Homo sapiens: one gene and its partner. The protein of the gene in region 1 purifies or fractionates together with the protein of each later gene. This does not show direct contact. Each region holds a gene or a part of one and is shown in the gene's direction. Other genes may lie near its edges.

The links.
Region 2: the proteins of VIL1 (region 1) and CHM fractionate together in Homo sapiens (co-fractionation; one large-scale study listed by BioGRID). This does not show direct contact.

What each region holds. Positions count from the first base shown.
Region 1 is NC_000002.12:218,429,104-218,432,919, forward strand, and holds part of VIL1 (villin-1), read left to right. Parts: intron 1-181; coding exon 182-384; intron 385-493; coding exon 494-572; intron 573-745; coding exon 746-844; intron 845-1,621; coding exon 1,622-1,775; intron 1,776-2,753; coding exon 2,754-2,854; intron 2,855-2,942; coding exon 2,943-3,080; intron 3,081-3,689; coding exon 3,690-3,816.
Region 2 is NC_000023.11:85,865,986-85,869,801, reverse strand, and holds part of CHM (rab proteins geranylgeranyltransferase component A 1), read left to right. Parts: intron 1-3,816. UniProt on the Homo sapiens protein: Substrate-binding subunit of the Rab geranylgeranyltransferase (GGTase) complex.

The sequences.
Region 1 (3,816 bases):
TTCCCCCTGGTTTCCTTACATGCCTTAAAAGCTTGACCCCTCCGACGGGGAAAAGCAGGGCAGGGGTCTCAACCCCTGTGGCTGCTGTAGGTGGTCTGGGCTTGCCTGGCAGGGTGTAGGGTGGCAGACACTGCCTCATTCCCCGACTACTCCCGATGGGTCACCAGGGGCCTTCCTGCAGGGCATGACTCTGGCCAAGGAGATCCGAGACCAGGAGCGGGGAGGGCGCACCTATGTAGGCGTGGTGGACGGAGAGAATGAATTGGCATCCCCGAAGCTGATGGAGGTGATGAACCACGTGCTGGGCAAGCGCAGGGAGCTGAAGGCGGCCGTGCCCGACACGGTGGTGGAGCCGGCACTCAAGGCTGCACTCAAACTGTACCAGTGAGCGCCCAGCGGGGTCTTCCTGGGTGCTGGGGACTCCCTGGGAGAAGGTGCCCTGGCTGAGGGACTTGGGCCCCCTCCCCATCTATGCCTTGCTTCTGTCCTGCAGTGTGTCTGACTCCGAGGGGAATCTGGTGGTGAGGGAAGTCGCCACACGGCCACTGACACAGGACCTGCTCAGTCACGAGGTAAGAGGGTCTGGAGACCCCTCAGCCTACTGCAGCCTGGCCCCCTTTCCCTCAAGCAGGAAAAATTCCAGGGGGCTTGGGGTGGGCCTGGGAGGGAGAGACTTTTTTGTGTGTGAGGCTTTCCCAGTCCAGCACCTCCAGCTCCATCAGACTCTTACCTCTCCCGACTCTAGGACTGTTACATCCTGGACCAGGGGGGCCTGAAGATCTACGTGTGGAAAGGGAAGAAAGCCAATGAGCAGGAGAAGAAGGGAGCCATGAGCCATGCGCTGGTAGTGGTGGGGGCGGGGGAGGGTCCAGGAGGAGGGCAGAGTGATGGGAGGGAGAGAGCAGATAGCAGCATGGGGTGGGCAGGCAGGCTCAGACCAGGGCATAGTGCCAGGCAGAGGCAGGGAAGGCTGGGAGGAGCAGGATGAGGGCTGGGCCCGGCCCAATGGGAGGGGCCTGAGGGGCCATTCTGTGGTCATCTTCGGGGTTCTCTGCACACCAGGGAGCCAACCACCAGGCAACCCTGGGGCCACCTCAGGATGTGGGCTCTCACCTCCCTGCACCTGAGCTGAGTTTGGAGAAGGGAAGGAGAAATGGAGGGAGGCTGGCTTCCTACAAAAGGGGATTGGGTCAGCTCAGACCAGGGCCAAGTCAGAGTTTGGGGTCATTGCTGGGGCTGGAGTCGTAACCCTAACTGGCTTGGGGCCAGTGTTGGATTGGGGACTGGGCATTAGGATTAGCATTGAGGTAGGGTCACATTAGGCGTTAGATTTGGCTTTGGGATTGGGGTCAGAGTTGTGTTTCGGTATTAGATTTGAAGCTGAGGTCAGAGTGAGTCTTGAGGCCAGTGTTAGGTTTCAGGCGGTATCAGATTTGACCTTGAGGCTGGGGTCAGAGTAGGGTTAGGTTGGGGATTAGCATTGGGATTGGGTTTGGGTTCAGTTTTGGTGCCGGGGTAGATCTGATGGTGGATCTGGTTAGGTTAGAGCTAGGTTTTGGCTTGCATTGGGAGTGGGGACTAGGGGAGGTGCATAGCTTCCAGCCACCCCTTTCTCTTCCAGAACTTCATCAAAGCCAAGCAGTACCCACCAAGCACACAGGTGGAGGTGCAGAATGATGGGGCTGAGTCGGCCGTCTTTCAGCAGCTCTTCCAGAAGTGGACAGCGTCCAACCGGACCTCAGGCCTAGGCAAAACCCACACTGTGGGCTCCGTGGGTGAGGGCCAGGCGGGGGCAGTGAGGGAGCCAGGATCCAGGAGCTGGGCCAGGAGAGCCACTTGGTCCACCACCCACCCTCCTTCCCTGACGTGCATCTTCAACGAAGACTTTTACGCTGGCTCTGGGCTTGTCCTAGCAGATGGGGACGTGGACAAACTCTAGTTGTCACAAAAAGGGAGCTGAGAGGGCTGGGCATGGTGGCACATGCCTGTAATCCCAGCACTTTGGGAGGCTGAGGCGGGTGGATCACCTGAGGTCAGGAGTTTGAGATTAGCCTAACATGGTGAAACCCCGTCTCTACTGAAAAAAAGAACTAATAAATTAGCCAAGCATGGTGGTGCATGCCTGTAACCCCAGCTACTCAGAAGGCTGAGGCTGGAGAATCGCTTGAATTCAGGAGGCAGAGGCTGCAGTGAGCCAAGATCATGCCATTGCACTCCAGCCTGGGCAACAAGAGCGAAACTCCATCTCAAAAAAAAAAAAAAAAAAAAAAGGGGAGCTGTCAGTGATGTGATATTTCATTTGGGATGGGGTTGGGCCTCCCTGAAAACCGAACAGCTTCAGTCTCTTACCAGCCAGTATTTGCTGAGGGCAAGCTCGGTGCCCAGCACCTAGGAGAGGACAAGTAATAGTGTACAGCCCCCAACATTGCACAGCTCCCTATTGAGCTGGGAGACAAGGTCAAGGCTTGAAGTCTGAATGCTGCAGGGGTCAGGACGTAGATCAACAAAGCTAAAGCCTTGCTCTTATGCCTCTCCTGGCTCCCTGGGAGCAGGAGTTTTAGAGGGAGGGAGATGTGGTTCTCTATTGTAGCTCTGCCACATTCTGTGCAACCAGGTAAGCTACTGAATCTCTCTTGCCTCGGTTTCCTCATCTGAAAATGAGTCTAAGAATTGTAGCCACCATTCAGGGCTGTTGTGAGGACCTGGGAGACCTCAGCTGGTGACAGTTGGTTTCATGATTTCCCCCACTCTAGCCAAAGTGGAACAGGTGAAGTTCGATGCCACATCCATGCATGTCAAGCCTCAGGTGGCTGCCCAGCAGAAGATGGTAGATGATGGGAGTGGGGAAGTGCAGGTATGTGAGGGCAGAGAGGCCCGTGCTGGGTGGAGCAGGAATGGTGGAGCCTGTCCTGGACCTCACCCTGGCCTGATACTGGCCCTAGGTGTGGCGCATTGAGAACCTAGAGCTGGTACCTGTGGATTCCAAGTGGCTAGGCCACTTCTATGGGGGCGACTGCTACCTGCTGCTCTACACCTACCTCATCGGCGAGAAGCAGCATTACCTGCTCTACGTTTGGCAGGTCAGGTCCCGCCACGTCCCACCCAGAGCACAGCCGGCTTAGCTCTGCCTTGTACATACTCCTGCTAAGTGGCCATCACCCTTGGGTTGAATACCTCTGGGGATGGGGTGCTCACCCCTTCAAGAAGGACTGCTTTGGCTATGAGGTCCCGCTAGTACCCCCATTCACAGCCCTTTTCCTTTTGGTTCTCTGAGTCTCCCTTCCAATTTTCATTGCCTTCTGCACATTCTTGTCACCTGCTCTGCCCATGGGTTTTTGTGTCTAGATGCGAGGGAGCAGGGAGTGTGTCTAGGACTGAGTGGTGTGGTGCCTGTGATGTCTCCCTGAAGAAGGAGCAGAAAGGAAAGGAGGAGGTTTGGGGTTAAGGCTGGGGTTGCAGGTAGGTCAGGGCTGGGCTGGGTCTGGGAAAGAATTAGGTTTGAGGTTGAGATCAGAACTGAGGTATGGTTCAGATTGGGGTTTTGGCTGTTTCACAGTGGAGTTTGGTGGGGAAGACAATTGGGTTTAGGACCAGTTCAGACTTGAGGATGGAGTTGTTGCTGAGGCTGAGGATGGGGTCAGAATTGGGGGCTGACCCAATCCCACTCACTCCCTCCTGCTCATCCCCAGGGCAGCCAGGCCAGCCAAGATGAAATTACAGCATCAGCTTATCAAGCCGTCATCCTGGACCAGAAGTACAATGGTGAACCAGTCCAGATCCGGGTCCCAATGGGCAAGGAGCCACCTCATCTTATGT
Region 2 (3,816 bases), on another chromosome or scaffold:
TGGCTTAAAAAAGGTGAAGAGGATGAAAAGTTGCCAATCAACTATTCTGTGCTTAGAACTAGGTTTAGTTGGCAAACAAAATGCAGCAGACCAAGAAGCATTAGATACACTTTCCAGAGCATGGCAGTTGACCCTAAGAGGTTGCAGCAGTTAGAGAGAGGAGAGATTTGGGAAGGGCTGGAGTCTGGCTATTGGAAATTGGCATCAACAAGGGCCAGGGCAGATGGGCTATAGGTGGGAGTTTCATAAGCAGGTAGAACACAAGAAAGAGTGGTGTGACAACCTGCAACTGGTGCTAATCTTAGGAGGCAGGTGGTGCATGACAAGATATATGGAAGTATGTGGTGTGGGATCCAGCCACAGAGACTGGAGTTTAGGGTAAAAGCTATTCTATGGGGAGGAGGCAAAAGGGAGACAAGGTGTCAAACACAGAGGAACTAGCATAGAAGAAGTAAAAGAATTAGTAGTAATAATAATTATTATATTTATACTTAATATTTGTATTAAATGTTACTGACATTCTATTTTATGCCAAGGCACTAAGGATCCAGAGTTGACTAAAAGTATTTGTCATCCTGGAGGAATCACTGTCAGGTAAAGGAGAAAAGCATGTAAACAAATGACAGTGTAGTGTGGCGTATGTACTAATATATCCAAAGTCTAGAAATAACAGAAAGGAGAAATGAGCCCAATCTAGGAGTCAGAGAACCTTACGGAGAGGGGTATAACAGAAGAGTAGCAATTCTCCATCTAAATCAAAGACAGTAGAATTGAAACATTCTGGATGTGAAGAATAACATTGGTACCAGTCCAGGATGTAAAAGATAAATATCATGGTGTATTGTTTCATACAAATAAACAGGTATTAGTAAATCAAGAAGTCTGAGAGATGGAGGCTAGATGAAATGGTATATGATAAGATCAGAGAAGGTAGGCCTGAAGGGTTTTATTTTCTATAGTAGGAATCTTGGATTTTATCCTATTGGTGATGGGGAGTCATTGAAGAATTTTAAGCCAAAAATGGAATAAACAGAATTTTATTTTCCATTGACCCATCTGAGGATGGCATGGAGATGGATTATATGGGGGAACTCTAGAGGCAAGGAGACCAGTCCAATTCTGAGGCTATTGTAGTTGTCTAGTTGAAAGATGGTGCATGTCTGGGCTATGTCAGTGGGGAAGGAACAGATGAAGTTAAGAGATAGAAGATAAAATTGATAGAATTTGATGATTGTTTGCATGCCAAAGATAAAAGGGAGGGAGAACTTTTACAGATAGTAAAAACAGAGATGTAAGACAAAAAGACCATTAGGGGAACGGAAGTATGAGGTAATGGCTTTGTCTGATCTAGGTCCTGCTTCTACAGGGGTTGCGTGTCTCTAGCAAAGGAGTATGGTGAGTCTCCGGGATGGAGAGCAAAGACAGGCATCTGTAATGTTTAATTTCCAAATAGCCATAATAAAAAATGCAGTTAGCTATAGTTACCATGCTGTACATTAGATCCCCAGAACTTATAGCTGAAAGTTCATACCCTTAAACCAACAGCTCTACACTCCCCAGCCCCTGGCAACCACCCTCAACTTTTTTAGATTCTACATATAAGTGAGATCATGTGATATTTGTCTTTCTGTGCTTGGCTTATTTCACTTAGCATAATGTCCTCCAGGTTCATTTATCTTGTCATAAATGACAGGATTCTTCAATTCAAATTTGACAAGAGAGCAGATTTTAAGTATTCTTACTACAAACACACACACACACACACACACACACACACACACAGTGGTAACTATTAGTGGTGATGGACGTGTTAACTTAATTGTGGTAATCATTACACAGTGTATATCAAGTGACCTTGTACACCTTAAATATATATACTTTTTGTCAATTAAGTATTTAAAAACTTAAATTGTCTATAGTAATTGGCATGTCCAAGAACATACCCTTGAAGGTTTTTTATTCTGTTACCCTGTCATACTAATAAGTTCAGCTTAAATCTTGACATTTTTACTTATGTTATTATTAGTAATAATGAAAATAGCTACCATATATGTCGGCTTAATCTCTGATATTTTATAGATAAGGAAGCCAAAGCTCGGAAATTGAGAAAGCATTCCCCAAATCACATAACTGCTAAATCGTAGAGCCAGTATTTTTACTGAGGCTATCTTTTCAAAACCCATGAGCTTAAACAAGTGCTATAGTCCTTAAAGTCCAGGGAATGGAAATTCTATCAAAAAGCAAATAGTTGAACAAACAGTGAAGAGTTTTCTTCATTTGAACAGTGACTTGTTAAAATTACTATATGCTAAATTAGACTATACCAGTATCACATGTGGGCTTGTATTAGTCTGTCCTCACACTGCTATAAAGATACCACCTGAGACTGTAATTTATAAACAAAAGAGGTTTAATTGACTGACAGTTCCTCATAGCTGGGGAGGCCTAAGGAAATGTAAAATCAGGGTGGAAGGCAAAGGGGAAGCAAGGCATGTCTTACATGGCGGCAGGAGAGCAAAGAAAGCAAAGAGGGAACTGCCAAACACTTTTAAACCATCAGATCTTGTGAGAAGTCACTATCACGAGGACAGCATGGGGAAAAGTGCCCCCATAATCCATTCATCTCCCACCAGTCCCTCCCTAATACTTGTGGATTACAATTGCAAATGAGATTTGGGTAGGGACATAGAGCCAAACCATATCATTCTGCCCCGACCCTTCCCAAATCTCATGTCCTTTTCACATTTCAAAACCAATCATCCCTTCCCAACAGCCCTCCAAAGTCTTAAAACTCATTCCAGCATTAACTCAAAAGTCCACGTCCAAAGTCTCATCTGAGACAAGTCAAGTCCCTTCTGCCTATGAACCTGTAAAATCAAAAGCAAGTTAGTTACTTCCAAGATACGATGGGGTATAGGCATTGGGTAAATGTCCCCATTCCAAATGGGAGAAATTGGACAAAACAAAGGGGCCATAGGCCCCATGCAAGTCCAAAACCCAGCCGGGCAGTCATTAAATCTTAAAGCTCCAAAATCTCCTTTGACTCCATGTCTCACATCCAGGCCATGCTGATACAAGGGCTAGGCTCCCACAGCCTTGGGCAGTTCCAACCCTGTGGCTCTGCAGGGGATAGGCACTGTGCCTGCTTTCATGGGCTGGCATTGAGTGCCTGTGACTTTTCCAGGTGCATGGTGCAGGCTGTCAGTGGAGCTACCATTCTGGGGTCTAGAGGACAGTGGCCCTCTTCTTACAGCTCCACTAAACAGTTCCCTAGTGGTGACTCTTTGTGGGGGCTCCAAGCCCACATTTCCCTTCAGCACTGCCCTAGCAGAGGTTCTCCATGAGGGCTCTACCCCTGCAGCAGACTTCTGCCTGGCCATCTAGGCGTTTCCTAACATCCTCTGAAATCTATGCAGAAGCTCCCAAACCTCACCTCTTGTCTTTTGTGCACCCTCAGGCCCAACATCACGTGGAAGCTGGCAACGCTCGGGGCTTGCACCCTCTGAAGCAACAGCCCAAGCTGTACCTTTATTCCTTTTAGCCATGGCTGGAGCTGGAGCAGCTGGGATGTAGGGTACCATGTTCCAGGGCTGCACAGAGCAGTGGGGCCCACCCAGCCCACTAAACCATTTTTCCTCCTAGGGAAGATCTCTGACATGCCCTGGAGACATTTTCCCCATTGTCTTGTCTATTGACATTTGGCTCATCATTGCTCATGCAAATTGCTATAGCCAGCTTGAATTCCTCCCCAGAAAATGGTTTTTTCTTTTCTCCCACATGGTCAGACTGCAAATTTTCCAAACCTTTATGCTCTGC